2 linked regions of the Homo sapiens genome follow. The protein of the gene in region 1 interacts with the protein of each later gene in a biochemical or structural test. Each region holds a gene or a part of one and is shown in the gene's direction. Other genes may lie near its edges.

What was found.
Region 2: the proteins of GABBR1 (region 1) and JAKMIP1 form a complex in vitro, tested with the Homo sapiens proteins (one study listed by BioGRID).

Annotation. Positions count from the first base shown.
Region 1 is NC_000006.12:29,626,018-29,642,034, reverse strand, and holds the start of GABBR1 (gamma-aminobutyric acid type B receptor subunit 1 isoform a precursor), read left to right. Parts: upstream 1-8,851; 5' UTR 8,852-9,185; intron 9,186-9,252; exon of another isoform or gene 9,253-9,338; coding exon of another isoform or gene 9,339-9,353; intron 9,354-9,649; coding exon 9,650-9,734; intron 9,735-10,433; exon of another isoform or gene 10,434-10,435; coding exon 10,436-10,639; intron 10,640-10,645; exon of another isoform or gene 10,646-11,391; coding exon 11,392-11,577; intron 11,578-12,927; coding exon 12,928-12,948; intron 12,949-14,021; exon of another isoform or gene 14,022-14,243; coding exon of another isoform or gene 14,244-14,388; coding exon 14,389-14,549; intron 14,550-16,017.
Region 2 is NC_000004.12:6,098,504-6,114,001, reverse strand, and holds part of JAKMIP1 (janus kinase and microtubule-interacting protein 1), read left to right. Parts: intron 1-1,004; 5' UTR 1,005-1,151; coding exon 1,152-1,280; intron 1,281-8,034; coding exon 8,035-8,529; intron 8,530-15,498. UniProt on the Homo sapiens protein: Associates with microtubules and may play a role in the microtubule-dependent transport of the GABA-B receptor. May play a role in JAK1 signaling and regulate microtubule cytoskeleton rearrangements.

The DNA of each region.
Region 1 (16,017 bases):
GCAACATGGGTGTGGGGTGAGGAGGCTGAACAGAGCACCACGCCCAGGCAGAGGGAGCTGGGTGTGTTTGGTTTCTGAGTTGAAAGTTAAGGAAGTTTAAAGAACAGCAGTCAGACGACCATGGCTGGAGCACTGTTAGTGAAGGGCAGAAGGACCTGAGACTTGACTTTGAGGCCAAGCTCTGGTATTTATTGGCTGTGTGATCTTATGAAGTTCATTCAAACTTTCTGAGCTTCAGTTTTCCTATCTGACAAATGGAGATATTATCATATAGAAACAACAGAAAGAATTAGAAGAGCTAATGTGAGAATTCTTTGTAAATTATGCACCAATAAGGTATTCAGTTTCTGCACAGATCTAGGTGTAACAAATACTGAAAGCATCTGAAGGTGTGTATGAGTCATGTCTGCTTTTTAGGTCTTCAGAGTGATGGCTTAGAAAGACAGGCAAGGAAGAGTAAACTCAGCAGGTGTTTGTTTACTCTCAATTGCTAAAAGCCAAGCTTGCTTCACATCTGTTCCAGGCTTTCCCTCCACTAGGACTCAGTGGTTCCCGTGGTTCTCTGGACTAGGGTAAGATTAATCTGACCTGCTGTAATAGGGTCATGGATGTGACATGGTCAGGTTTTCATACATAGCCTTTATGGAGATCCTTACTGGCATTTTAAAATTTATTTTATTTTATTTTATTTTATTTTGAGATGGAGTCTTGCTCTGTCGCCCAGGCTGGAACGCAGTGGTGTGATCTCGGCTCACTGCAACCTCTGCCTTCCAGGTTCAAGCAATTCTCCTTCCTCAGCCTCCCCCGTAGCTGGGATTACAGGCACCTGCCACCATGCCCAACTGATTTTTTGTATTTTTGGTAGAGACGGGGTTTTGTATTTTTGGTAGAGATGGGGTTTCGCCATGTTGCCCAGGCTGGTCTCGGACTCCAGTTCAAGCGACCCACCCGCCTCGGCCTCCCAAAGTGCTAGGATTATAGGTGTGAGCCACCACGCCCAGCCCTCTTACTGGCATTTTTATCATATTTCCATGAATAGAATTTCTAGTCTGTTGCTTCAGATTTGTTCATTTGACTTCTAAAACATCTATCTGTAAACATCTTCTCATGTTTATAAACAGTTTCACATATCCTTTTCTGCAATTCCAAAATTCACAATACTCTGAAAACCAAAATTTTGTAACTCATTTGGCGGCAAAGCCTGGCCTGACTTGCATTCATTCTGTGACAAAACGAGATGTGAAGCTATTTATAGTCTTTCTTTACCTCATCTAGTGTAAATAGCCATACATTTAACGTGAAAATATATTTTTGCTTATTATGGGCTTTAGACCTGCATACACATATTAAATGATAGATTTTTGAGTATTGTGTAGCTTCTAATAGAAAAATCTGGGTGATATATCCTTTTACTCTGAGTATTATTTCATTAGTGTGCTTCGAATAAGTGAGCAATCATTTTAGGTACTTGAACAGAATATGACGAGAGACAGAAATCTATTGCAGCAAAATGAACAAACAAATCCCCTAGCAACCAATTATATACACACATTATGATGCATACGTTTTTCAGATTAGTATGAATAATTATTTGTAGATATTCATACCAGTATATACTTAATTACACGTTTAATTAAATATAATACTTATTTTGAGATCTTCAAAATGCTCATTAAATTTGTGTTTATGAGAACTGAACCTTTTTTTTTTTTTTTTTGGAGACAGTTTTGCCTGTTGCCCAGGCTGGAGTGCAATGGCACAATCTCAGCTCACTGCAACCTCCAGCTCCTGGGTTCAAGCGATTCTCTTGCCTCAGCCTCCCGAGTAGGTGGGATTACAGGCATGCACCACCATGGCCGACTAATTTTGTATTTTTAGTAGATGGGTGGTTTCTCCATGTTGGTTAGGCTGGTCTCAAACTCCTGATCTCAGGTGATCCGCCCGCCTAGGCCTCCCAAAGTGCTGGGATTAAAGGCATGAGCCACGGCGCCCGGCAGGAGAACTGAACCTTTTCTAAGTCTTTTAACATGACCTCATTATCCTGTAGATGAACGGACAAAGAAGCTATTTTCCTTTTTGTTTCTTAGGTTAATCTAGCATTTAATTACATTGTGTTCATTCACTTATTATATAAAGGTGTACTTATTGAGAAATTATTTCTAGAGGCAACTTCACAATGTCAATGTTGTAATTTGGTTATTGGCTCTGTGCACTCCTGAGACAGGGGTAGGATCCCCACTGCCTCAGGGATTCTTGTGTGTGAGAGTGGTAAGTGCTAGTGCAGGTACTCATAGTGTGGCTTTTTAATTTCACTGAAGTTTTGTGACTCCCAAACTGGGCTCACCTGTACATGCCTGTAAAGACATGATAGAAATAGCTTCATGAGCTTACTTTTATTGGCACAATAAACCAAGGCCAGAACTGCCAAGAATGTACAACTGCTATGGTCTGAATGTTTGTGTTCCCCCAAAATTCATGTTCTGAAACCTAATCCCCAATGCAATGTGGTATTAAGTGGTGGGGACTTTTGCAAATGAGATTAGTGCCCTTCTAAAAGAGGCCCCAGGGAGCTTGTTTGCCCTTCCACCATGTGAAGACACAGCTAGATCGCAGATGGCAGATGGCAGTCTATGAGGAAGCCAGCCCTCACCAGACACTGAATCTGCCAGTGCCTTAATCTTGGATTTCCCGGCCTCCAGAACTGTCAGAAATACATTTCTGTTGTTCATAAGTTACCCGGTGCAAGAGATTTTGTTATGGCAGCCCAAACAGACGAAGACAGCAACCAAACTAGGATTGTGTGTGGGGAGCAATAGAGAGGGTTTATTAACGAAAGATGTTCCCTTACTCTCTCTCTTTTTTTTTTTTTTTTCCTGAGACGGAGTTTCACTTTGTCGCCCAGGCTGGAGTGCAGTGGCTCGATCTCTGATCACTGCAAGCTCCGCCTCCCAGGTCACGCCATTCTCCTGCCTCAGCCTCCCAAGTAGCTGGGATTACAGGCGCCCACCATCACGCCCAGCTAATTATTTTTTTTGTATTTTTAGTAGAGACGGTGTTTCACCGTGTTAGCCAGGATGGTCTTGATCTCATAACCTCGTGATCTGCCCGCCTTGGCTTCCCAAAGTGCTGGGATTACAGGCATGAGCCACCGTGCCCGGCCTACTCTCTTACTTCTTTCTGGCCCAGTGATTCTGAGTGCCTGTGCCTATCAAGACGGGAAGAAAGAGAACACACAAATGGAAACTGAGGGGAAGGATCAAACAGTTTCACAAAAATATCCTATTTTAGTGATATTAAATATGATGCAAAGGATTCAAAACCTCACTAAAAAGCCAGAGTGAATCCCAGAGTGTAAATAACTTCACGTTTGAATAATAAACCTTTGCCCTATACATTTTTCTAAAGAGCAAGAGCTGTTACAGGACAGAAAACTCTCCCAGAAGACAGGTCTTTCATCCTAACCCAAGAGGACATGAACATCTTCCATTCACCCAGTGATCACCACTACTTTAGATGAGAGAATAGAACTGCAGTTTGACCCTTGACAGAAAATGCCTTGGAGCCGGGTGTGGTGGCTCACACCTGTCATCCCAGCACTGTGGGAGGCCGAGGTGGGCGGATTACGAGGTCAGGAGATCGAGACCATCCTGGCTAACACAGTGAAACCCCGACTCTACTAAAAATACAAAAAAATTAGCCGGGCATGGTGGCGGGCGCCTGTAGTCCCAGCTACTCGGGAGGCTGAGGCAGGAGAATGGTGTGAACCCGGGAGGCGGAGGTTGCAGTGAGCCGAGATTGTGCCACTGCACTCCAGCCTGGGCAAAAGAACAAGACTCCGTCTCAATAAAAAAAAGAAAGAAAGAAAGAAAGAAAAAGACTTGGAGTGGGAGTTGGGTGAGAGAAGTGCCTCAAAACTAAGCCTCTCAATGCAGTAGAAAGAATTTGAAAATAGGGTAACGAACTTAAGTTCAAATGTTGGCTCTGTCAGCTTTATAGCTGTGTGACCTCTGATTTGCTTCTTACTTTCTTTAAATGGTAGTTTACTAGGCTCAGTATAGAACATGAATATCCACTCTGTGTGGTTAGGTGAGAATTTAATGAGATACTCCCAAAATGTACCTAGCATCTACCTGATCATCAATCAAGTGAACTACGTTGGTTAATATGTTTTCAGGGCTCCCAGAGTGTTAAATTCTGGGCTATATGCTCTCAGGGATGGATGGAAGATGAGGCAGAAGAGAGAAAAGGAAGTAGAAAGAAAGTATGGGAGGCCAGGCCCCGTGGCTCATGCCTGTAATCCCAGCACTTTGGGAGGCTGAGGCGGGCAGATCATGAGGTCAGGAGTTTGAGACCAGCCTGGCCAACATGGTGAAACCCCGTCTCTACTAAAAATACAAAAAATTAGCTGGGCGTGGTGGTGGGGCGCCGGTAATTCCCAGCTACTCAGGAGGCTGAGGCAAGAGAATTGCTTGAACCCAGGAGGCAGAGGTTGCAGTGAGCGAGATCGCGCCACTGCACTCCAGCCCGGGCGACAGTGTGAGACTGTCTCAAAAAATAAATAAATAAATAAAATAAAAATAAATAAATAAGAATAAAAAATAAAAATTATTAAAAAAAAAGAAAGTATGGGAACTAAAATGAATAAGATTTGTCATTTTCCAGTAATCTGAGTAGGAACTCCACTATCTCTATGAAAAACCGTCAAAAACTACAAAAGGAGATGGCATTGCCAAAGGCACAAATTGTACAGAAGTGAGAGAAGGATGGGATCAAGCCTGGGGATCCTTCCAGAGGAAAGAAGTTTTGTGCTTGATGTAAAAGGAAAAGAAGGAAGTAGATTGATTGTGGGGAGGATGAAATTAGGATACTCAAGTAGTGGTTCTGGAAGGACCTCTACAAATATCCTGAAAAATATGGCCAGGAATCCTGGCAGTGACATTGGAATATGAAAAGATGTGAAAGGGGGAAGTTGTAGCTACTGGTGGAAAAAGGTGAGTGGTTTGTATAATGAACATAATTGGAGCCCTTGTCTGTACCCTCAAATGCCTCTGCCTCCCAAACAAGTAACAGATTTTAGCTATACTGATGCAACTTGCTAGGAAGGTTTTCTTTAAACCTTTATAAATCAGTTAAAAATGATTTATAGAGGAGACACTTGTAAAACATTTGAATAAAAGTTGAACAACAAATATGACGAAAGAAAAGTGTGCAGGCCCCGCACAGTGGCTTATGCCTGTAATCCCAGCACTTTGGGAGGCTGAGGCAGGTGGATCACCTGAGGTCAGGAGTTCGAGACCAGCCTGACCAATATTGTGAAACCCTGTCTCTACTAAAAATACAAAATTTAGCCAGCCATGGTGGTGTGCACCTGTAGTCTCAGCTACTCGGGAGGCTGAGACAGGAGAATCGCTTGAATCCGGGAGGCGGAAGTCGCCGTCAGTCGAGATCACGCCATTGCACTCCAGCCTGGGTGACAAGAGTGAAACTCCGTCCCCCCACCAAAAAAAAGAAAGAAAAAAAAAGAAAAGTGAGGGTGGAGGGAGGGAGAGCACGACGTGCGCGCACCCTCTCCCCTTGTCCACTGCTGCCGCCTCCTTCTTCTGCCGCTCCTGGTGCTGCTTGTGTGCTCGTTTGGAGCGGACCTGGTACCTCTTTTGTGAAGCGGCAGCTGAGGAGACTCCGGCGCTCGCCATGGCCGAAGAAAAGCCCAAGGAAGGAGTCAAGACTGAGAACAACGATCATATTAATTTGAAGGTGGCGGGGCAGGATGGTTCTGTGGTGCAGTTTAAGATTAAGAGGCATACACCACTTAGTAAACTAATGAAAGCCTATTGTGAACGACAGGGATTGTCAATGAGGCAGATCAGATTCCGATTCGACGGGCAACCAATGAAACAGACACACCTGCACAGTTGGAAATGGAGGATGAAGATACAATTGATGTGTTCCAACAGCAGACGGGAGGTGTCTACTGAAAAGGGAACCTGCTTCTTTACTCCAGAACTCTGTTCTTTAAAGACCAAGATTACATTCTCAATTAGAAAACTGCAATTTGCTTCCACCACATCCTGACTACTACCGTATAGTTTTCTCTATTCTTTCATTTCCCCCTTCCCCATTCCTTTACTGTACATAAAGTAACTGGTATATGTGCACAAGCATATTACTTTTTTTTTTTAAAACTAAACAGCCAATGGTATGTTTTGATTGACATCAAGTGGAGACGGGGCGGAAAAATACTGATTCTGTGAAAATACCCCCTTTCTCCATTAGTGGCATGCTCATTCAGCTCTTATCTTTATATTCCAGTAAGTTATTTTGCTCTCACTGTTTTAACAACAACAACAAAAAAACAACAACATAAAAATCCTTGCATACCTTGTTCAATTGGAGAATTTTAATGTTTTTCATTTATCATTGTAAAACCAAGGACAATTTTATAACTTTTTTGTACTTAGCTGTTACATGCAGAGCAATCTGTCTTTAAGTAGGGATAAATTACTCTAAAACAAAAAAGAATCCTAGATAGTTTTCCCTTCAAGTCAAGCGTCTTGTTGTTTAAATAAACTTCTTGTTTAAAAAAAAAAAAAGTAAAAAAGAAAAGTTATGCAACAATTAATGGCCCAGAGGCAATCCTTGTTAACATTTTGATGCATCTTTTAGCTGTTTTTTTTTGTTTTTTTTTTTTGACTGAGTTTGACTCTTGTCACCCAGGCTGAAGTGCAATGGCATGGCATGATCTTGGCTCACTGCAACCTCCGCCTCCCGGGTTCAAGTGATTCTCCTGCCTCAGCCTCCTGAGTAGCTAGGATTACGGGCATGCACCACCATGCCTGGCTAATTTTGTATTTTTAGTAGAGTTGGGGCTTCTCCACGCTGGTCAGGCTGGTCTCGAACTCCCAACCTCAGGTGATAAGGGAAGGGGCACTATTGACATTTATGGTTGGGGCAGAGGTGTAAGATATTCTTCAAAGCACTACCTACATGTTGAAGAATTGTTCCTCACCCAGATTCTCAAAAGTCCCCCAGGACATTCACGTAGTGAAAACCTGTGTTTAATTATCTGAGCCTATAACTTAATACAGTTTTAAAATTTTTTTTTAAATATACAGTGAACTTTCTAGGAATGCAATTATAGTTGTGTGTAAAATTAGGGAAAATTAACTTTGCTACCAAGAGTTGTTCAACATTTTGTTAAATCACTTCATTGATGGCAACATGCTGGAGGTAGTTGAGTCACCAACTCAGCACCTGGATCAGCCTGTGTTGGTAGCAGTTTCATCCCCGTGGTTCTGTGAATAGGTGGAAGCATCTGCTTACTCCATCAGGACTTCTAGGGTAGTCGGGCCTTGGCACTCACACATTAAAATACTGTTTATGTTATTTTATTGCAAGTTACTTTTCTTTCATTTCCCCTTTACGTTACAGAAAGGGAAGCATTTTGCTTTCTGTTTAAAGTTGTGTATGTAGGTAGGTTATATCATCTATGACTTTCTCTCCCTCCTTCCCTTTCTTTTTGTTTGAGATGGAGTCTTGCTCTGTCACCCAGGCTGGAGTGCAGTGGTGCGATCTTGGCTCACTGCAACCTCTGCCTCCCGGGTTCAAGCGATTCTGGTGTCTCAGCTGGGATTACAGGCGCACACCATCACACCACGCTAATTTTTCTATTTTTAGTAGAGATGGGGTTTCGCCATGCTGGCCAGGCCAGGCTGGTCTCAAACTCCTGAGCTCAAGTGATCAGTCCGCCTCGGCCTCCCAAAGTTCTGGGATTTCAGGCGTGAGCCTCATCTATGAATCTCAATTTAGGACAGTAAAAGTGTCATTACAAAATATTTATTGTAAAAAAGGGTTGGAGGTTGAGAATCTCAATTCTAGTCAGTCTCTCAGTGTTTGGTTTCTTCCTACCATTTTTCCCCCTAGGACCAGCCAGAAAGCAGCTTTTTTTTTGTCCCCCCCAACAAGGAGCCCACTGTTTCCTCTCCCAGCCCAAACTCAGGCCTACGAACAACAACAGCACAACACACACACACACACACACACACACACACACACACACACACACACACACCCCTCCACTTCAAGGTATAGCCAAGAGCTTCTGGAGCCGTCAAAAAGGTCTGTACCTGCTGTCTTTAGAGCTTCCAGTTTGCCCTTGGTCAAGAAATACTGTTTGCTAGGCTCTGCTGGAGTACATCAGGTAATACTGGCTTCTAAACCACCCTGAGGTTCTTTTCTCTTGTCCTTTTACTCCCTTCGTACTTCAATTTCTCTCCTTGATGTCCCCCTCCCTGTTTTGTTTTTTGCCTCCAATCCGTTCTGCGCGTTCCCTGCAGAGCAGGCGAGTAGCAATGCTGCTGGACCATGGAGCTGCTCTAGTCTCCCAGAAATCTCTTCTACACCCAACCCTTCTTGCGCTTAGGTGGTCCTCAGTCCCCCTCCCCCACCTCCTTCTGACCCAGGCTTCTTTCTCGCCCTCCGGTCGCAGTTCTCCTGGGCATCTGCCTCTGCCTCTCTCCTCTCACCCGGATCTAGGGCTGCCTTCTCTTTGTGCAGCCGTCTTTCTCCACCTTCATCCCAGACTCCCTGTCTCAGCGCCAGCTCCTCTGCCTTTGGCTCGGGTTCCCTCTCCCCCACCCCAGCTTCCAGTTGTTTGGCCCGCAGGTCCCTCGGCAGTGACCGGCGCCCCCCGACGAGTGCGTGTGCACCAGGGCACCTCCCTCTCCCCCACCTCTCAGCCCCGCGCCTCTCCACCGCCCGCCCCACCGCGCTGTGGGCGGTCCAGGGCGGGGCTGGGATCCGGGGCGGCTCCCGGGGCTCGGGTTGTGGGAGGCGCCCTCTCCCCGGTCTTCCCCTCTCTTCCCCCCGCCCTGCCTTCCCTTGCACCCTCCTTCTTCCCTCCGCCCGGGAGCTCTCCCTGGTCCCCGGCGCCGCCTCCTTCCCTCCCGGCTCCCCGCTCCCCGCTCCCGTGGCTGCCGCCGCCCCGGGGAAGAAGAGACAGGGGTGGGGTTTGGGGGAAGCGAGAGAGGAGGGGAGAGACCCTGGCCAGGCTGGAGCCTGGATTCGAGGGGAGGAGGGACGGGAGGAGGAGAAAGGTGGAGGAGAAGGGAGGGGGGAGCGGGGAGGAGCGGCCGGGCCTGGGGCCTTGAGGCCCGGGGAGAGCCGGGGAGCCGGGCCCGCGCGCCGAGGTAAGAGCCAGGGCCCCGGGTTAGCAGGGCTCGGAGAGGGGGCGCGCGGCGTGGTGGGGGAGGGGGCAGTGGGCGCAGGGCCCAGCTGGGGGAAGCGGGGCTGGGGGAGAGGAGGAACCGCGGGGATGGAATCGGGGAGCGCTGAGGCGGCCGATGCCGGGAGCGTGGGTAAGCCAGGCTTCTGCGAGCCGCGGGGGCCGGGGGAGAGGAGGTGGTGAGAGGTGGAGTCCCGGGAGGGTTGGGGGCCGAGGGAGGCAGGAGGAGGGTGGGGACAGGCTTTCTCTCCTCCTCTCCCCCCACCCCGCGCGGGGCTCCGCCCCCGCCTCCTCCGCGGGGCGCTCTCTTGGTCCCCAGGCTGAGCCCGGTCGGAGCCTGCGAGGCAACCGGCAAGAGGTCGAGTAGTCTCCGGGTGCGGGCCGCGCCGGCGGGGCTCGGTCCAGTCCTCATGGCCGCCTCTCACTTAGATGTTGCTGCTGCTGCTACTGGCGCCACTCTTCCTCCGCCCCCCGGGCGCGGGCGGGGCGCAGACCCCCAACGCCACCTCAGAAGGTGCATCCTTCTTCGACGACCTCCGGCCCTCCTTCGCTCCACTTCCCTTTCCCTGCATCTCCTCATTTCTGGTCCTCATCACTATCCCATCAGTCCCACATATCATCCCGGTCTGGCAACCCCTTCTGCTCGGCCCGACTTTACTACTGCTGACCTCCTTCTGTCACCCCACGTTACTATCCAGCACCTCTTTTCTCTGCCCACATTGCTACACTATACCACCTTCCTGTGCATTTTCTCCGCCTCAATCCCCTTTCCCAGCCCCACATTACTACCTCAATTACTCCCTTTTCTTGGTCCCACTTTGCTGTCCAGATGATCTTATTAGCCTCCCTTTATCCTCCTATCCTAATTCAACTCGAATATCCTCATTTAGCCTTTTTTTTTAAAGAAAAGCTCCACCCACATATCATACCCTTCATGATTTCTTAATTACTTTTCTTTCTTACCTCCACCCAGCACCCTTCCCTCCCCACTTGTGGGTTCTCTCATCAGCTTTAACCCTGGCCCTTTACTCTCTGTCCTTTAGCCAGGGGATCTGTACCTGTCCCCACTCCCACCCTCTAGTGCCCCATCCCTCTTCCTCTGTCCCCAGCCTGCCCACAGACCACGCCCTACTCTCCCCTTCCTCCCACTGGGGAGCCTGCCTTTTCCTCTTTCCCACCATTCCTCTCTGTATGCCTCCCCGACTCACCCCTTAGGTTGCCAGATCATACACCCGCCCTGGGAAGGGGGCATCAGGTACCGGGGCCTGACTCGGGACCAGGTGAAGGCTATCAACTTCCTGCCAGTGGACTATGAGATTGAGTATGTGTGCCGGGGGGAGCGCGAGGTGGTGGGGCCCAAGGTCCGCAAGTGCCTGGCCAACGGCTCCTGGACAGATATGGACACACCCAGCCGCTGTGGTGAGTAGCCTCGGAAGCCCCTCCCCTCTTCAAGACTATTCCTTTTCCTGCCGCAAACTTAGCATTACTGCTTGCAAGTCAGCACTTTAAATCCAGTATACCAAAATTCACAAATACATTTATTGAATGACTACTACATAAGAGCAATTTTGCTCTGTGCGGTTGGAGGTAGTAGAGCTAGCAGCCTGCACAGTTCATTTCATCCTCCCTTCATTAGGCCACTGATCATTGGCCTATAACATTGATAATTCATCTTGTCAGTTATTCTCTTTGAGGATCATTAGTGGCAGATGATGACAAAAAAATTCTAAAATGATTTCATCACATTTTTGAATACCTCTGTCACCAACCCAGAGACCATATGCCCAAGAAACAAAAGCCAGTTTAATATTAATAGAAGCCAACTATAATAAGAAAAGCAAATCTGATTGTGCATCCAAAGTTATATACATCTACATATTTCAAAGCCAGAGAACCGCCCACTGTAGCTGACTTTGAAGAGATCCCATTTTGTGTGCTTATAGCCCCATCTTGGGTTCCTAAAATGGTAATTTTTTTTTTCTTTTGGGAATGTGTGGATGCTTGCACAGGTAAGGGAGGATTGGAAGATAGGTAGGCAAATCCTTTTCACATGTGATTTTCTTTAGAGCAGGATGCTTGTGGACCCAAACCTGCACCTGAGTCCCCTGCTCTTTAAAGGGAAAGAGCCTTCTTCAACTCGCCTCTCTTCTTATTTTCCTATCTCTCCACAGTCCGAATCTGCTCCAAGTCTTATTTGACCCTGGAAAATGGGAAGGTTTTCCTGACGGGTGGGGACCTCCCAGCTCTGGACGGAGCCCGGGTGGATTTCCGGTGTGACCCCGACTTCCATCTGGTGGGCAGCTCCCGGAGCATCTGTAGTCAGGGCCAGTGGAGCACCCCCAAGCCCCACTGCCAGGGTGAGGGGAACAGCTGCCTGCATGCAGCTGATGAGGACGCTTGTGTGAGGATGGGAGTGGGGTGGGAATGGATAATGGGAAAGAATGGAGAGCTATAAAAATGTGGGGGAGGACACTGGAAAGGGGAGATGAAAGTCCCTTTTTCCTCCATCACCTGCCTCAAACTTCCTCTTGCAGTCCCCGGTATCCTCTGTAGGTTGGGGGCTTCCTTCCTTTACCTTTTAAAAAAATCTTCCTGCTCCCGATTCTTAGACCTCACGTTTTCTCTTTTCCTTTATGAATCTCACCTCTCTCACCTTCTTCAGGTTTAAATACTCCAATTTTCCCTTTCTCTAAACTTAGAAATTTCCATGCATCACCCTCTTCTAGAATTCATCCCTCACCATTCCTTATATAATTGATTTATTGTAAAGACTCAGAAATAAATCAAACATTCTACTAAGAAAAATTGAGAAGGGGAGCTCTGGGGGTGGAAACATATTAGGGTAAAAGACTTAAAATTGGAGGCAGCATTATCAGAAGATGAAGAACAACTCAGGGATGGGGTGGGAAGAAGACAGGTCCTTTTCTGTACTTCCTAGACAACCTCCATTATTCCCTAAGGGAATCAGTGTTGTGTCTGTCTACTTTTTTTTTTTTTTTTTTGCCACGTAATTTTACAAACTCTCCCTTTTCTAGGCACCCGAACTCTCTGCCATCTTCTCTCCTGGGATGCAGTCATCCCATTTGTATGCCTCATACTTCCTCTACCCTGGTAGATTCTTTCAAGATCCTTGGGCTTTACTTTCCTCACATAACTCAGTTATTCTGCTTCTAGTTTACCATTTTATTCTGGAAATTGAGAGTCCCATCCAGGGGTGGACTTATGACACTACTGAAACTTAGACTTCAAGGTTCCTCACCTACAGGGCCCTCTTCCTGTGCTCTAATAATATAGAGGGCTCGATGGATATGTGTTCATATGGTAACAGGCTTTTGTAAAAATTGCAGAAATAAGATTTTAACAGCAATTGCTTAAAGCCAATTGTATGTGTAATTTTTTTTCTTAAAGACTCCCAATTTTGTAATATTCAGGCACCACAGAACCAAGATCTGCCCCAAACTTAGCTATTGGCATTCCCGTCTCAAATTCTGTTGTCCTATGAAAAATCGAAGAAGAAAATAAGTCCTGACCCCCTTACCCCCAGACCCACCTTGTTCTTATCCCCAGGCACCCTCCCCTCAGAAACGCAGGCTTCTGCTCTCCCCGGTCTTCAGCATGGACAGGTGTGGGAGGGGGCTGGGGATCAGGCCAGGGAAGCTGGGCGCCAGTGGTAACTCTTCTCTGATCCCCGTCTTTCCTGCTGCCAGTGAATCGAACGCCACACTCAGGTGAGATGAGAAACCCTTACCGCGCGCACTGCAATGCCCTCCCCTTCACTCTGCACCCTCCACCCCCCTGAAATTCTGCCCTTAGGCTACGGGGCGTCGTCCTTTCGCACCTTCCCCAACCCACCCCAGTTTGCGGCCACCCCCTTCCCTCCCTACCTGTTTCCTGCCTCCAGTCCCGGTTTTCCACGAGGCTGCGGTCTCTCCTTGTCCCTGCTTGGCTACACTTCCCTGGGCTCCACCTCCTCCCAGACTGAGCCTCGCCGGTGTCAGGCAGAGCCCAGCAGAGGGCGGCAGGGTGCTGGGAGACCCTGAGCTCCCACCACGTTTTCCCCTGTGGGGTTCCTTGCGACCTTCGCTGGAACCTTTTCCAGCCTGCTGCCTCCTAGGATTTCACCTAATGGACTTTCTCAGCCTGTCCCACCCATCCCAACCCTGGCCAGGCCTCTCGCGCTCTTCCCCACATCTTTTCCTTCCGTGTACCCCTTCCCTCGTCTTTTCTCAATTCCATGTCCTGTCTCCCTTTCTTAGGCTTCTGTCTACCCAGCCCCAGGCTCCCTTCCACGACCCCACCACTCCCTCAAACCAGCCTCCCTTCCGTACCCAACTCGTTCCCTCCAAAACCGTTTCCTCTCCCCCACATCCTCAGTGCTTCACTGTATCGACTCATACTCCCACTTCAGACCTCAGGCGCCAGCCCCGTTTCTCTCCCGTCCCACTCGCATCCTTCCCTTCCTACCCTGGTTCCTCCGTGCTTCAGCCTCCCGCGGCTCCCTCCGCCCACCCCGCCCTCCTGGCACGCCCCGTCCCCATTTCTCCTCCCCTCGGGTCCCCTTAAGTGAGATCCCTCCCTTCCTCTTTCGTTCCTTTCCTCCTCGAGGTTGCATCCCCCCTCCCCTCCCCGCCCCTCCGACTGTCGCTCCCACCTCGGCGCTCGCTTCCCTCCCCGCCCCCTTCCTGCCTCCCCAGCTCCCGCCCGCCCCCCCACCCCCCGCTGCCGCGCGCCGCCCGTGACGTCAGAGCCCCCTCCCAGCCCCACATCTCCCTCCTGCTCCTCCTCCTCCCCTCCGTCGGTCAGTCAGTCCGCGAGGAGAGTCCGCGGTGGCGGCGACGGTGGCGAGAGCCGCGGGGGCCGTAGGAAGCCAACCTTCCCTGCTTCTCCGGGGCCCTCGCCCCCTCCTCCCCACAAAATCAGGGATGGAGGCGCCTCCCCGGCACCCTCTTAGCAGCCCTCCCCAGGAAAAGTGTCCCCCCTGAGCTCCTAACGCTCCCCAACAGCTACCCCTGCCCCCCACGCCATGGGGCCCGGGGCCCCTTTTGCCCGGGTGGGGTGGCCACTGCCGCTTCTGGTTGTGATGGCGGCAGGGGTGGCTCCGGTGTGGGCCTCCCACTCCCCCCATCTCCCGCGGCCTCACTCGCGGGTCCCCCCGCACCCCTCCTCAGAACGGCGCGCAGTGTACATCGGGGCACTGTTTCCCATGAGCGGGGGCTGGCCAGGGGGCCAGGCCTGCCAGCCCGCGGTGGAGATGGCGCTGGAGGACGTGAATAGCCGCAGGGACATCCTGCCGGACTATGAGCTCAAGCTCATCCACCACGACAGCAAGGTAGCCCTGGACATGGGGGTGGGTGGGAGGTGGGGGCTTGCGGGGCAGGGGGCCAGCCAGCTGCACGCGCCCCCATCTGTCTGAGTCGTCTCTGGGATTGCGAGGCAGACCCCTCCCTTGTGTGACTGGCAGGAGATGGGCTGGGGGTGCAGGAGCTTGGGGAGAGTCGCAGGGGCTGGAGGTCCAAGATGAGGGTCTAGGGGCTCAAGATGGTTAAGCATGCTGCAAGGCAGACCCTTCTGCCCCGCTGCGGGAGTCTCGCAGAAGTGTCGGGGTTTGGAGAAACTGGTGGTGGATTTAAGGTATTAGGAGACACTGATCCTCTGAGGGAGTAAACTAACCCTGGAATGGGTTGGGGGTGGAGGGAATGTCAGAGGTGGGGAGCTGGATTGGGGGTTTACATTTACCATGGTAACAAGGTAAAATCTTGGCGTAGGTTGGAGCTGGAAGGAATAGGGACAGAATGAGGAAAATTTTGAGAGACTTGAGAGCTCTAGTTTATTTATCTTAACAAAACAGCAAGGTAGTGGTGAGCCCTACCTGACTCCTTCTCATCCTTCTATTCCCAACCCTGTTGAGCATTCCCAGACTGTGGGATAGATGGCATATGGTGATTGGGGAAGGCTAATGATCAAGAGGTGGGCAGAGGCACTGGGAAAATGAATTGGATTGGGGATCCACATGGGAACCCCCACAATAGCATGGGGATGAAGAAGAGTCAACATACAAGGAGAAGAGAACAGAAAAGAATGGCAGTGGGGGAGAGGGGCAAGGAGGTAGCGTGGGGATAATGAGAGATCTTGGGGCACCTTATGGAACTTGGGTCCTGACCTTCCCTTCCCTTATAGCATTGTGGCCTCTAGGATGTGAGAAGGGAAATGGGATGTAGGGATTAGGGAGGTGAGTTGAGGGAGAGAGAGAAGGTAAGCAAATTTGGGTCCAGGGGTATTAGGGGATAGCTTATAATGAGGTTTTTTTTCCCACCCCTCTCCCCTACATGAATAATTGGGGGTGCAGGGAAGGATGTGACACAGGGAAGGAGATTTAAGATCTCAAATTTATCTTCACTGACATGTGGCCCCAGAGACTTAAGGAATTGGGTTAGGGTGAAATAGAGTACACAAGGTGAGAATTTGGTGATCTTACCAAATATCAACCTTGGGGTGATCCAAGGATTTATATTCATTTTTAGAACATCACTATACACCTAGAAATAGGTGTGTGTCTGGGATAGGTGTGTGAGGGGACAGAAGTGAGGTTGAAGGTAGGGTGCTTGAAGAGAAGAGAGCACAAGGATTATCAGGAGCTTGGCAAGAGAACTTAAAATCCTTTTTGACTGTTACTTTCTCGTGGTTCTCAGCCTTCAGTGTACATAAGAATCACCAGAGGAGTTTGTTAAAAATACAGATTCTAGCTCCTTGGTCAGGGATGAATCCCAAGTATTTATCTGTATTTTTACTAATAGACA
Region 2 (15,498 bases), on another chromosome or scaffold:
GCTCCCGTCACAGGCCCTGGCACATGATGGGTGCCTCATGACTCTTCTGCTGTCACTCACTCACTCATTCATTCACGCACCTGGCGGATCCTGATGGAATGCATCCTTACGTGCTGCCCTCTGTTCTAGGCATGGAGGACACAGCAGGCGCAGAGCAGGCCCAGGCCCTGCTTACTGGGAACCCATCCTCGTGTAGGGGACATAGATGAGAACTAAGTCAATTACAGTTTGTCAGATGGAAAACGAGAAGGAGACGTGGTGAAGGGAAGGGAGAGCAGAGGCGGGCTTTCCGAGGCAGCTTGGGGCGGTGATTAGGCTCAGTCCTGGCTCACCCGCTTCCAGCTGTGGACCTTGATCAGGTTCATACTATTTCCTCTCTCAGTAGTTGAGTGACATCACCAGCAGTCAACCTCTGTGTGTCTCAGTTTCCTCATCTGTAACACTGGGTGATATCACCTACCTAGTAGGGAAGGAAACCACTAACCTCTGAAATCGAAAAGTCCATTTCTCTAAGTGTGGTCCTCACGCCCTGCTCCAGAATTGCTGGGATTGTGGATGGAAATGCAGATTCCCTGGACCACCATGCTCCTCATGCTTCAAGCTCTGGATGAGGCCCAGGGCCCTGCTTTTTGGAAGAAGCACCTTGGGAGACACAGGCTCACTGATGTTGGCAGACCATGGTCTGCAGGCTGCTGAGATGGGCTGGTCTCATCCTGATGGGAGCAGGATGGACTGAAGCTATTCCAGGTGTGGTCACCTGGGAGCCTCACCTAGGAGCATGTTAGAAATGCAAATCAGATTCTCTAGGGGTGGGCCCAGGACTCCACGCCTTAACAACCTCCAAGCGATTCTGCTGCAGCCCCCATCGGGAAGGCTCTAGGTCAGTCTGGGAGTGGCAGGTCATGCTCCAGATGAGGCAGGTGCCTGGCCCAGGGTGCCCGAGGCAGGGACACCAGCTCCCCACCCTTCTGTCTCTGCTAACTCAGTTTCCCTCCTTCCTTCAGGATCCCAAGTGATGGTGGTTTCCTCGGAGGGCGAGCTGAGTCCTGCGCGACTGGTTAGCACGGTGGAGCTGGTAGCCACGCCTGCTGGCTGGCGTGCGTGAACAGGTGTGGACCGCAGGATCTCAGCACTCTGACCCAAGGGGAAGCATGTCGAAGAAAGGCCGGAGCAAGGGCGAGAAGCCCGAGATGGAGACGGACGCGGTGCAGATGGCCAACGAGGAGCTGCGGGCCAAGCTGACCAGCATTCAGATCGAGTTCCAGCAGGAAAAAAGCAAGGTGGGGGTTGGCGTCAGCTCAGCAGCGGCTGGGCTGCAAATGTCCCTTTGGGCAGTGTTGCCTCTGAGGCATGTGTGTGAAGAGCCTGTTCCAGGAGGGGGGCCGAGGGGGGGCACTTCACCTCTCTGCCCTGCTGTCTGTCCCTTTGCAGTACAGAGACTGCTGGGCAGGAGTCTGGGCCCTACCAGTGCTTGCTGTGACCTTCAAAAAGCCACTGAACACCTCATTCTTTGATTTCTCTTACCTGCAAGATGGGGGTTGTCAGAAGAAAAATGTTTGACAAATTCAGTTTAGCAGAGATTAACTGAGCAAAGAACGATTCGAGGATGGGGCAGTCCCCAGAACAGAACAGGTTCAGAGAAACCTGCATGTGGTCAGACAGCATTCATTATGGGGACAGAAAACAGAAGAGGTGCTGAGGCTACTTGATCAGTTACAGCTTGACCCTTGATCCATGGGTCACCTGTGATTTACTGATGCTCAGCTGCTGTGATTGGCTGAGCTTCGGCTATTTGTTTAAAAATGCTCCTAAGTCAGGCTTTTGGTTAGTTTGCCTGCTAAGTTAGGTTGCAGTTCATCATATAGGAACTCATGCATGAAGGCATCCTCAGGCTGAATTCAGCAGGGTCATGGCGGTACCAGCTTTTCCTAAATTCCAAAAGGGAGTAGGGCATAGTGAGGTATGTCCCACTTCCCCGCTTCCCATCATGGCCTGAACTAGCTTTTCAGGTTAACTTTGGAAGACCCTTGGTGGAGAGGAGGGATCCGTTCAGATGGTCAGGAGGCTTCAAAGTTTATTTTTGGTTTATGCTGCCATGAGGTCTTGTAAGCCATATATGTGCTTTCTTAGATGTGATGGGGCTGTGGTCTGGACTCAGGGCTCTGCTAGGTAAAGAGCTTGGAACAGAGCCTGGTTCTGCGATATGAGCTACTTTCCTCTCTCCTAAGGCAGATTTGAGCTTTGGAGCTGGTCAGGACAGTGCCTGGTTGGGTGCTGGCAGTCTAATTAAAGCACGGGCTGTCACAGAGGGGAGGAGCACAGGCTTTCTAGGCAGACCCGGTTTCAAACCTCAGCTTGTCCGCTAACTGGTCTCATGATCTTGGCCAGGTGACTAAAAGTCTCCGAAACCTCTGTCTTCTCATCTGACACCAGCTATTATGGTGTAATTATAGCTGTCCGGTTTAAGATGGTCATGAGGATCTGATTAATGGATGCAATAAAAAGCCCCATCAACATCTGGTGCCCAGGCACAGCTGCAGTCCTATTTGGTGGCCTGCTTCTGACTTGGGTGGGCTTGAGGGTAGAGCAAGCCCAGGGTTCTGTGAGCCCAGAGAGGAGCTGCCAGCCAGGCTGAGCACAGAAAGAGCATGGAGATGCAGGCTTGCTCCTGGGTGGCTCGAGCAGTTGAAGGTCTATCTGAAGCCCCGAAGGTGCCCTCTGGCTCCTGCTGTAGTACCTGGAGTGACGGGTGGAGGCTGCTTGGGGAATTGCAGCAGGCGTCCCTGTCTTGTTGAGCTGGGACTCAGGTCGCCAATGGAGTGCTGGGCCAGATCCAGCTTCCAGGTGGGGACGGGGCTGGGGCCTGGGATCTGGCTGCAACCCCAGCTCAGGATGGCCACACAGAGCAGAGGCTGAGTTCTGGACCAGGGGACTGGGCTTCTGGAACTTGGGGACAGATGCACCTGTCTCCATCCCTAGGTGTTCAAGATTCCAGGCCGAGTGCATCCAGCCTCTTTTAGACATGGATGCTGGTGATGCTGACCTGTTCACCCTTTAGCCAGGTCAACAGGCCAGGTCACCTCCGGGGCTGGGGCTGGGGCTGACTGGCTGGGGGTGTAAGGGCTGGCAGCTTGTATCTGGACATAGCTACAGCAGCTGTGGTGACAGGGAAAGCTGCTCACTCATATCACACTGCCTGGGCTCAAATCCCCTCTCCACCACCACCCCTGCCTGAGGTCTTATAAGCTGTGTAACCCCCTGCCTCAGTTTTCCCATCTGTAGATGGGGACCTCTAAGGTGTCTGCCTCCTGGGTTGTTTGAGGAATGAATGAGACAGTCACACACAGGGCCTGGGTGCTGCCTGTCATACGCTCACATGACCATCAGGGTGACCTTTACATGCCTACTGTGCAGATAGCACCAGGTGCTTTAGAGGGTGTCATGACCCTGGCAGTGACCTGAGAGATCAGGTGTGGCTTCCCCCGTGTTACAGGTGAGCAAGCCAAGGGCTGGAGAGGGCGGGGACTTGCCCAGGTGTGTTAGCTTGCCAGGGCTGCAGTAACCAAGTCCCACAGATAGGGCGGCTTACGCAACAGACGATTGCTGTCTCACAGTCCTGGAGGCTGGCAGCCACAGATCCAGGTGTCAGGATTGGCTCCTTCTGAAGCCTCTCTCCTTGGCTTGCAGACGGCCGCCTTCTCCCTGTGTCTTCACATGGCTTTCTCCTCTGTGTTTGTCCATGTCTGTATTTTCTGTTCTTACAAAGACACCAGGCAAATCGGATTAGGGCCCACCCTAATGACCTCATTAGGATCTATCTCCAAATGGAATCACATCCTGAGGTCATGGGGGTTAGGACTTCAACATATGATTTTCAGGGGGACACAGTTTAGCCCCACACACGAGGCCAGCACAGTAGGTGGTATTGCAGGATTGAAAGCCAGGCCCATGCGGACCCCAGGCTGGGCCTCCCTGTTACCAGGCTGCCTCCCTGCCTCTGGGACGTGTGGCAATTTCCACTTGGATGCACGCTGGCTGATTATTTTCTCAATCCAGCCATCCATGTGGCCGCTTCAGGTTGACTTTACCCATCTGGCTGCTGGGAGAATTTCAATTCTCTGAGAATTCAGTAATGTGCTTATTGACTGGTACAAAAAACATAAATGCAAACTTTACAATTGCATTGAAGTGTTACTTTGATATGATCTCACAATCACTGTCAATGTCCCATTTAAAGTGCTGGCATTTTAGCAAAGCATCCCTGTTGAACACTGTAGGATGAAGGAGGGTGGTAAACGTGTCTGTCTATTCATCTGCAAACCCCTGGCATGCATGCTCCATGCCTGGGCTGAGTGAGAAGTGTTTGGAAGTAACTCAGAGACAGACCCTGTCCTCAAGTCGCATGGGTACAGAGCCTCACAGGAAACCAGCAATACAGCAGCCCTGGGCACATTCCATCAGAGGTTTTAGAAAATAGTGCAGGGACAAGCAGAACCCAAGGCTTCACAGGGGCAGTTTTGTGGGGGTTTTGTGGAGCATTTCCTTACTTTCTGGCATTATAAGATGCCCCAGGCTCCGCAGTGGCTCATGCCTGTAATCTCAGCACTTTGGGAGGCCAAGGCGGGCGGATAATGAGGTCAGGAGATCGAGACCATCCTGGCTAACACAGTGAAACTCTGTCTCTACTAAAAATATAAAAAAATTAGCCGGGCGCAGTGGCGGGTGCCTGTAGTCCCAGCTACTCTGGAAGCTGAGGCAGGAGAATGGCGTGAACCTGGAAGGCAGAGCCTGCAGTGAGCCAAGATCGTGCCACTGCACTCCAGCCTGGGGGACAGAGCGAGACTCCGACTCAAAAAAAAAAAAAAAAAAAAAAAAAAGGTGCCCCAGGCACATCTTGTATATTTCCTACCCCAGCGCTAGACCCAGCAGTTTCTCTAAGGGGTCCTGGTTCCTTTTATTGGAGAATGGCATTAGAAACAAAGATCCAGGCACCAGGCGTGCCCATCACTGCTGCGGTGTCATTGTTTCTAGGCCCTCTCAGCTGCCAGAACAAGGAATATATATGTGTATACTGACCTGCGTATGTACGCATACCTGTAAATATTTCCATATATGACATCTATATCCATACAAAGTCAAACATGAGTTCTTACAGATGTCCCAAGACGCATCCACTGCCGCATGGCTCCCTTCAGCCTCCTCTTGCTTGTCTGTAACCTCTTACTCCAAGTGGGAAACCTGGCTTCCCCCTCTGCCATCCACTTTCTTTGTTCAACACTATACATGTATGATGGTTTCAGAGTAGTGAACTGGTACCCATGAGATTTAGAGGGCTTTGAGCATGGAGGGTGTGGCGGGGAGGGCTGCTGCAGGTGGCTTGGGCAAGGGGGAAGTGGGGAAGTGGCCAGGCCTGGACATGGAGAGCCAGTGCTGCTGGATTGGATGAGGATGAGGATGGAAAGGGGTGAATCTGACTCACTCTCTGAGTGGGAGTGGCAAGTGAGGGTGGTGCTGGTGGTTCAGATAATTTCTCCACGCCAGCCCCCACACCCCCAGGGCATGCTCCCTCTCTTGGCCTTTGTGCCGTGGCTGCATTTAGAGTCCAAGTGCTGAGGAGCGGCTGGTGTAGGTGCCTCTACACTTGGGGTAGCTTGGAGGCACCTGGAGGTAAAGTGCTGGGCGGCTTTTTTTGGCCTGCTCAGCTGGATGGAGTGGTGGTGGGAGGGAGTGCTCTGTGCCCATCAGAGGTCACCCCAGCCTCACTCTGCTGCTTCTGTGGCATAGGTCATGTCACCTGGGCTTGGCTCTCAGCAGCTTTGGGCAGAGCTGGAGGGACCCAGCAGGGCCCTGTCCCCAGGCCCCTGCCTCTCTGTCACCATCCCTGCCCTACACACCTGGATCACCAGCCTCAGCAGCACCTCTGCCCCTCCCAGGAAGCAGCCCCTAGACGCCCCGGGCTGCCCTGCACAGGCCTCTGCCCACCCTTCCATGTTCCTCACCCCCTTTCTACCTGTGTCTCTCACACGAGGCTGCCCACCCCTGATGCAGAAAGTCAGAACCACGATAACAACAGACTTCCATTCACCCACCCACAGTCACCTCATCTTCCTCCTCTCAACGGGCCTTTGAGGGGCAGCTGTTGCCATCCCTGTTTCCTAGTAGAGGAAACTGGAGCTCTGGAAGGTTGTGTAGTCAGGGTTCTTCAAAGAAACAGAACCAATAGGTTGTGACACACACACACACACCCCCCACAGAGTGAGAGGTTATTCGTTAGTTTTAAGGAATCGGCTTATGCGGTTGTGGGGCTGGCAAATCTGAAATGTGTAGGGCAGACCAGCAGGCTGGAGATTCAGGCAAGGGTTGATCTTGCAGCTTCGAGTCCCAGTGCAGCCGGGAGGCAGAGTTCCTTCTTCCGCAGGGGACCTCGGTCTTCTCTTAAAGCCTTCGACTGATTGGATGAGGCCCACCTACATTGTGGAAGGCACCGTGCTTCACCCAGAGTCTACTGATGTAAATGTTAATCTCTTATAAAATGTACCTTCACAGCCACATCTGGACTGGTGTTTGACCAAACGACTGGGCATTGTGGCCCAGCCAAGTCGACCCACAACATCAGCCACCATAGAGGCAGAGAAATTTGCCTGGGGAAACGCAGCTCATCAAAGCAGATTAGGATCTCATTGGATCTGACCCTGCTGGCCCCAGATGGCTGTCGGCATTAACCAGGGACTTGACTGTTGCCTCGCAGGAGGGAGAACAGTCAAAACCATTTTGTCCATAACTGGGACAATTCTGTTAAATACTTAAAGTTCTGGCTTCCTGCTGCTAAATCCACTAGGAAAAGATGCTGATTGCTGCCCCCAGGGTAAGGTGGACAGAACATGGACTGGTCGCCTGGCTTCATTCCTATGATTGTGAGTATCTGGTGAAAGGAGATGTTGATCTTGTGTGTTTGCCTGGGTTGGTTTTATTTGCTTTTTTACCTGCTGTTTTAAGTAAGGATTTATCAATACTCAGGTGCCATTGTAAAACTTCTCACCTAAAATTAATTTTAACATGTGACTATGCTATCAACAGTGTGGTCTGGGGAAAAACATTGCCATTTTCCCTGGAAGCAGCTTGTCCACCAGAGGCAATTCATTTCAGGTCTTCAGAGACGGGCAGAATTCAGGAAATAAGGGCTTGTCAGGCGTTCCTGTGGAATGTGTGTTGAGTGATATTTGAAACAAAAAGGTTAAAGAAAGCATTTTGAAGTGTTTTAAGAACACACTCCCTTGGGACGTTTTATAAGTAATGTTTTGAATTGTTTGCTGATAAAATGAATAGGCTCAAGGCGGGGTGGGTTGCCTGGTAGCACAGGGTCCTCATCCCTCACCCTGGGCAGCTCACCAGACTGTCTCTGATCTTTGGCTGCCTCATGATAAAACAGAGGAGAGAGAGAGGAAGAGAGAGAGAGAGAGAGGAGAGAGGGAGAAAGAGAGGGAGCACGCTACTTCCTTCCCAAGACCGTGAGGGGTTCATGTGGCAATGTGGGTGATGCATTGGAGCCCCCAGCCCAGCTAGGGACCCCACTCAACAAGAATGGTGCCCCCTGCTCACTGCCCCCCAGGACTTAGAAGCCTGGTCTGTCTTTTCCAACTCCACAGTCCGCGCATGGGGCCCTGGAAATATATTTCTGGTTTACAATCTTTTGGGTCTTGGTGATGATTTCTGCAGGGTGTGTTTTGTGATTGAGCAGTCGTCTCAATTTACAACCTGGAAGAGATGTCAAAGGCTTGAATGCCTCTCCAGCATCCTCAGGGGGTTTCCACCCCCAGGGAAAGTCTCAGGGAACTAGCAGGAGAGATTCTAAGTGGGGCTGGCAGGAGGGTCAGGCCTGCAGGGCACTGCCGAAGGGGGAATCCATGGGAACGTGGGCCCAGGTGGGTGTCTTGGGCGTGGGGAGGCTGTGGCCAGCTCCCCCAGCTGTGACCCTGACCCTGACCCTGACCCTGACCCTGACCCTGACCGGCTCTCTCGCCGCTCTGGCTGCAGGTGGGCAAACTGCGCGAGCGGCTGCAGGAGGCGAAGCTGGAGCGCGAGCAGGAGCAGCGACGGCACACGGCCTACATTTCGGAGCTCAAGGCCAAGCTGCATGAGGAGAAGACCAAGGAGCTGCAGGCGCTGCGCGAGGGGCTCATCCGGCAGCACGAGCAGGAGGCGGCGCGCACCGCCAAGATCAAGGAGGGCGAGCTGCAGCGGCTGCAGGCCACGCTGAACGTGCTGCGCGACGGCGCGGCCGACAAGGTCAAGACGGCGCTGCTGACCGAGGCGCGCGAGGAGGCGCGCAGGGCCTTCGATGGAGAGCGCCTGCGGCTGCAGCAGGAGATCCTGGAGCTCAAGGCAGCGCGCAAGCAGGCAGAGGAGGCGCTCAGTAACTGCATGCAGGCTGACAAGACCAAGGCAGCCGACCTGCGTGCCGCCTACCAGGCGCACCAAGACGAGGTGCACCGCATCAAGCGCGAGTGCGAGCGCGACATCCGCAGGCTGGTACGTGCCGCCCCCTCCCCCGCCCGCGGGCACGCGGCCTTCCCTCCCTGCACGCATGGGGGAAATGCGGAGCTCCGAGGACCTGCTGTGCTCCAGGCATTGTTCAAAGCACTGGGGCCCCAGCAACCTCCCTCCCGTCTTAGGTGTGGTAAGGAGGCTTTGGGGCTGCAGGTAATCCGCTCAAAGAACAGTTCCCCATTTGTCAAAGGAGCTTAATGGAGACTAGCGAGGGTTGTTGCAAATGCCTCGTGATAGCGTATCTAAGTGTCGGGCATTTATTGATTCATTTACTTCAACAACCATGAGCAGACTTCCATCTCCAGGTAAGATGCCACAGGTCAGGGCAGGCCGGCCAACTGGCTGCAACAGCAAGGGAAACATATAAATTGCAAATAGTCCTGTTTTGAAAGATACTGGAGATCTGTGGAAGCTGTGGAGTGTGGATGAACTAAAATTCCAAAGGGAAGGGGAAAGAGCCCTGCCTGGGCGGCCTAATTGCCAGCTGCTTTCTTCCCTTGGGGCATTTGTGGATTCTGGGTGCGGGCTGAGGATTGGATGTCCTCAGAGAGATGAGTAGGACTTTTCTGCCATCTCAGAGTGGGCATGAAACAATGGAAACCAGAGGAGCCCCACCTAGGCCAGCTTGCTGCACAGGAGATCCTCCTGAGTCCTGGAGTGAAGGGGGAGGCTGGCGAGCCCAGCTGGAAAGGCAGAATGACAGCTCCCATGCCCTCACTGGACGTAGGAGACAAAGGGAGGGGGCCCGCCACAAACACATGACCAGTCTGCCCCTCAGGGCGTTTGTCACACTTTGAAGCTGTGTGGGGCAGGAGGCTAAGAAGTAAAGTAAGCTGAGATTTTCAGACTGGATCAAAGAGTAACAGTGATATTTACAAGAGAGACATCTTAATTATGAGGACATGGTGACATGGAGCATAAGAGGATGGGGAAAGATACACTGTGCAAGCACTTCCTAAAAGCAAAGCTGGTCTGGCTGTATTAATGTCAAAGGCTCTAAGGCAAGAAGTAATACTAAAGACACAAAAGGACAGTTCTTAATAATAAAGGGTCAATTCAGTGGGAATGCATTCAATAACAAAACCTCAAAATGTATAAAAGAAAAAAATTATCAACACTAAAAGGAGAAGCAGACAAATCCACAGTTACGGTTGGGGACGAACACGCTTCTCTCAGCAAACAGTAGAACACACAGACAAAGAATGAATAAAGACATGATTTCACCAACACAATTAACCAACGTGAACTTACCTGACAGAGCACTCTATTCCACAACTGCAGAATACTGTGGACATGACATACTTTTATCATTGTAGACCGCATTTCAAAATTTGTGGGTTGTAATTAGTCCTTAGAGCAAAACATATTTTAGACAAAAAGAAGAAATGCTGAAAATCAAGCATCTAAACTTCTATCTCAAGAAGAAAGAAAAAGAACAGCAAATTAAACTCCAGAGAGTAGAAGGAAGGAAATTTTAAAGAGCAAGAAGCAGTGAAATAAAATCAATAAAGAAAATCAACAAATTCAAGAGTTAATTAAAACTGATAAATTGACAAACATTTAGCAATATTGATAAAGCAAAACAGAGACAATAAATTACTAATATCAAAAATGTAAAGGGGGAAATACCACAGCTCCTACAGTCAATAAAACCACAGCAAACAGCATATACCAATAAACTTGAAACCTCGATAAAATGAACATATTCCTTGAATAAGCACAATGTACCAAAACTGACATGAAACAAATAGAAAATCTAAGTAGTCCTAAAGCTCCTAAATAAATTAAATCTGTAATGAATAATTTTCCTATGAAGAAAGGCCCAGGCCTAGATGGCTTCACAAGTAAATTCTTTCAAGTGTTTAAGAAAGAAGTAAAACTAATTCTAGCCAAAGTCTTCCAGAAAATAGAGAATTAGGAACACATTTTAACTAACTTATGAAGCCAGTGTAACTCTGATTCCAAAAGCAATAACATTACAGGATAAGAAAACTTTTGGATTACCTTTTATGAACATAGATACAAGAGTACGAGCAAGATATTAACATATCAAATCCAGCAATACATAGGAAGGCTAATAAGTCATAACCCAGCTGGGTTTATTCTGAAAATATAAAGATTGGCTTCATATTCTAAAATCACTGAATATAATTCAACATAATAATATGATAAAAAAGAAAAACGTGGTCAGTCATCTTAATAGATGCAGAAAAATCTGTTGGTAAAATTCAACTTCATGATATAAACTCTCCGAAAACCAGGAAAAGAATGGAATTTCTCTAATATGATAAATGGTTCTATCAAAAATCTTTTACAAGTAACATACATAATGATGAAATATTGAACATTTCCCACCCAAGTTCAAGGTCAAAACAAGATGTTGACTATTACCACTTCTAGTCAACATTGCATTGGCCAGGATGTCAAATATAAAATAAAATAAAATAAATAAAAGTTTCATTGGGAGGCCGAGGCAGGCAGATCACGAGTTTAGGAGATTGAGACCATCCTGGCTAACACAGTGAAACCCCATCTCTACTAAAAATACAAAAAATTAGCGGGGTGCAGTGGTGGGCGCCTGTAGTCCCAGCTACTCAGGAGGCTGAGGCAGGAGAATGGTGTGAACCTGGGAGGTGGAGCTTGCAGTGAGCTGAGATCGCGCCACTGCACTCCAGCCTGGGCGACAGAGTGAGACTCCCTCTCAAAAAAAAAAAAAAAAAAAAAAAAAAAAAGTCTTTAGAGAGGGAGAAAAAAGGGAAACTCATTATTTGCAGGTGCTATGGTTGTGATGTAGCAAACCCAAGACACCTGTTTTAGTTCATTACTGTTGCTATAACAAAATAACACAGACTGGGTAACTTATATATAATAGAAATTTTTTTCTTACCATTCTGGAGGCTGGGAAGTCCAAGATCTAGGCACTATCTGGCAAGGGTCCAGTTTCTGCTTCTAAGACAGTGCCTTGAATGCCATGTCCTCACATGGCAGAAGGAGTGGAATGACAAAAGAGAGGCAGGCAGCTCATATTTCTCTTATAAGGTCACTAACTCCCTTCATAAAGGCTTTGCCCTCATGACTTCATCACCTCTTAAAGACCCCATCTCCTAATACTATCACACTGATGATAAGTTTCAATGTATGAATTTTTGTGAGACACATTCAGAACATGGCAAGACCCTACAAACTATTAGAATTAATAAGTGAGTTTATCAAAGTCTACATATACAAGGTACATACACACAAATAAGTTGTTTCAATATATCAGCAGTGAACAATTAGAAAATGAAATCTTAAAAAATATCATTTACAGTAGAGCACCACAAAATTCAAATACCTAGGAATAAATCTAAGGAAAGTTGTGTAAGATGTCTCCCCTGAAAACTATAAAACATTGCTGAGAAAAACTTAAGGAGATCTAAATCAATGGAAAGGGATATCGTTTTCATCGATTAGAAGACTTAGTATAGATATCAGTTTTTCCATGATTGATCTACAGATTCAGTGCTATCCCTTACCAAAATCCCAGCAGACTCTTTTTTTTTTTTTTTTTTAACTGAGTCTTGCTCTGTTGCTCAGGCTGGAGTGCAGTGGCATGATCTCAACTCACTGCAACTTCTGCCTCCTGGGTTCAAGCAATTCTCCTGCCTCAGCCTCCCGAGTAGCTGGGATTACAGATGCCTGCCACCATGCCCGGCTAATTTTTTTTTTTTTTTTTTTTTTTTGTATTTTTAGTAGAGATGGGGTTTTGCCATGTTGGCCAGGTTGGTCTCGAACTCCTGATCTCAAGTGATCCACCTGCCTTGGCCTCCCAAAGTGCTAGGATTACAGACGTGAGTCACCACGCCCAGCCACCAGCAGACTTTTTAAATGCAGACATCGGCAAGCAGATTCTAAATTTGATGTAAAAATTGAAAGGATGTGGAATCACAATCTTGAAGAAGAGAAAAATTGGAGGTTTCATACAACCTATAACAAAGTTTACTACAAAGCTACAGTAATCAAGACAGTAGGCTGAAGGTTAGAGAGACACGTCAATGGAACAGAAGAGCCCAGAAGTACATCTTCACGTGTGTGGACAAAGATACCGTGGCAGTTCACTATAGAGAGGATGATCTTTCAATGGACAATATTGGACTGGTCAGCTATCTGTAAGAAAAAAAAACAGGAAATACACACACACACACACCACACACACTCTCTGTATATAGAGTATGAAGTCTATATCATACTACCCACAAAGATTAATTCAAAGTGGTCCATAGGCCTACATGTAAAAAGTAAAACAATATAGCTACTAGTAGAAAACAGACTATTTTCATGATCTTGGGACATGGTAAATATTTCTTAAGCAGGACACAGTACACTATTTACATAAATATACTATTCAGAGAGGGTTGTACATTGGACATGAAATAATCATTGTTCATCAAAAGACACTAATAAAAGAGAGACAAGGCAAATTACAGACTGAGAGAAGACATGTTCAATACCTATAACCACAAAGAACTTTTGTGCAGATTATAAAAACTATAAAATAATATGAAAACTCAAAAATGGGCAAAAGCTTGAAAGAATATTTCAAAAACAGGATAATTAAATGACTAACAAATATGTGAAAAGGTGTTCTACCTCATTGATCATCAGGGAACCAGAGTAAAATTACAACTAGATATAAATTCTCATCCACTAGAATGACTATTAAAAAAAAACAGACAATAGTAAATGTTGACTAGCATGTGGAGGAATGGGTACCGTCATTCTGATAGGACTTTAAAATGGTATAGCCACCTTGATAAATGGTTTTGTAGTTTCTTAAAAAGTCTAAAAAAAGGACACCTACGGACTCTGTAATTCTACTCCTAAGTATCTACCCAAGAGAAATGAAAACACATATCTATATAAAGATTTGTACATGAATGCTTATAGCATTATAATAGTCAACGAATGGGAGAAGCCCAAATGTCCTCAGTTGGTGAATGGATAAATGTGGCATGTCTATATAACACAATGTGATTCAACAATGAGAAGGTATGAAATATTGATATATGCTTCAATATCTATAACATTTCTGAACCTCAGAAACATTATGCTAAATGATAGAAGCTAGACACAAAAGACCTCATATTGTATGCTTGCATTTGTATGAAATCTCCAGAATAGCCAAATCTATATATCCAAATCTATAGTGGCTGACGGGGACTAGTTGGAATGGAGATTAGCTGTAAATGAGTGTGAGGGACCTTACTGGGCGAGGAAGGTTCTGAAACAGATTATAATGATGGCTCCACAACTTGGAAGACTTACTAAAAATCGGCGAAGTTCATGATTTATAAATTAAACTCTAAAATGTTTAAAACAAGAAAAATTGGAAATTTAAATAGGATTGATAAAAGTTTAATGGTGGATCTTGTATTTGCATTTAAAAGGAGCATATTTATAAGAGGAAGAACAGCACACAATGAAACAACACTGCCCAGGCACCAGGATGGCTAAATTAAAAAGCTAACAGTGCTGAGAAATGGCAAGGACGTGGAGCAGCCGTGCCCCTCGGTAGCATCCCATACACTAAAGTGCCCTAAAACGAAACAGAGACATCTGTTAACTCAGAATTTCTCATCAAGCAAAAAATATTATTTTACAATAAGAGTGAAATAAAGACATTTTAGGTAAAAGGAAGCTAAGATTATTTGTCGCCAGAGGCTGTACCACCAAAAATGCTAAAGGAGGTTCTGCAGGTGAAGAGAAACAATGCCAGATAGGAATTTAGTTCTCTTGGAAGGGAATAAAGAACAGGAGAAGTGGGTAAAGGAGAGTCAATGTCTGAGACGATCTCTTTTTCTCAGTGTATTCAAAACACAAGTGACTGTTTAAAGCAAAAGAATCAGATTGTATTGTGGGGTTTATGACATATGCAGACGTAAAATGCATAAAACAATCTAGAAAGGATGGGGTGGGGGTGGTTGGTGGAAAATGGATCTGTGCTCTCGCACAGTCCTTCAGTCTTGTCTGAGGGGGTGCGTGACGCTATGAGTTCAAGGAGGCTGTGACAAATCAAGGTTTAAAAAGGCAGCACAAGGAGGCACAGATAAAAAGCAAATGGGGAAATAAAATGAGAGACTAAAGAAATCTGTTTGCACTAAAAGAGGGTAGCAAAGAAGGACCAAAGCAGGGGAAAAAAACAGACGAGACAAATGGAGAAGAGACAGCAAAACGGTGGAATTAAAGGAGTCATATCAGTAGTTACATTAAATGTAAATGGACTAAACCAGTTAAAAGGCAGAAATTGTCAGAGTGGATACAAAAGTCACACTTTAAATATAAAGACCCACTTTCCCTGAAGGAAAAGGATAGAAAACATGCTCTGTGAGCAATAAATGTAGCAATAGGATGGATAAAGGTGTATTTAGTCAATGGGATATTACACAGCACTGGGAAAAAATGAATTTCCAAAACAGGCAAGAAAATGAATGAATTTCCCAGCCGTGGTGTCAGAACCAAACCAAAGAAGATGAGCACAAAAGCTACATACTATATGATTTTACTCACATGAAGTTTAAGAAGCGTAAAAACTAATCTAAGGTGCTAGAATAAGAGTGTGGATGACCTCCGGGTGTGGGGTTGATCAGGAAGCGGCAGGAGCCAGCCTTCTCGAGCATCAGGAATCAATCTTTCTTTCTTTCTTTCTTTTCTTTCTCTTTCTTTCCTTCCTTCCTTCCTTCTCTTTCTTTCTTTTTCTTTCTTTCTTTCTTTCTTTCTTTCTTTCTTTCTTTCTTTCTTTCTTTCTCTCTCTTTCTTCCTTTCCTTTCCTTTCTTTCTTTTCTTTCTTTCTTTTTCTTTTTCTTTCTTTTCTTCCTTTCTTTCTTCCTTTCCTTCTTTCTTTCTTTCTTTCTTTCTTTCTTTCTTTCTTTTTCTTTCTCTCTCTCTCTCTCTTTCTTCCTTCCTTCCTTTCCT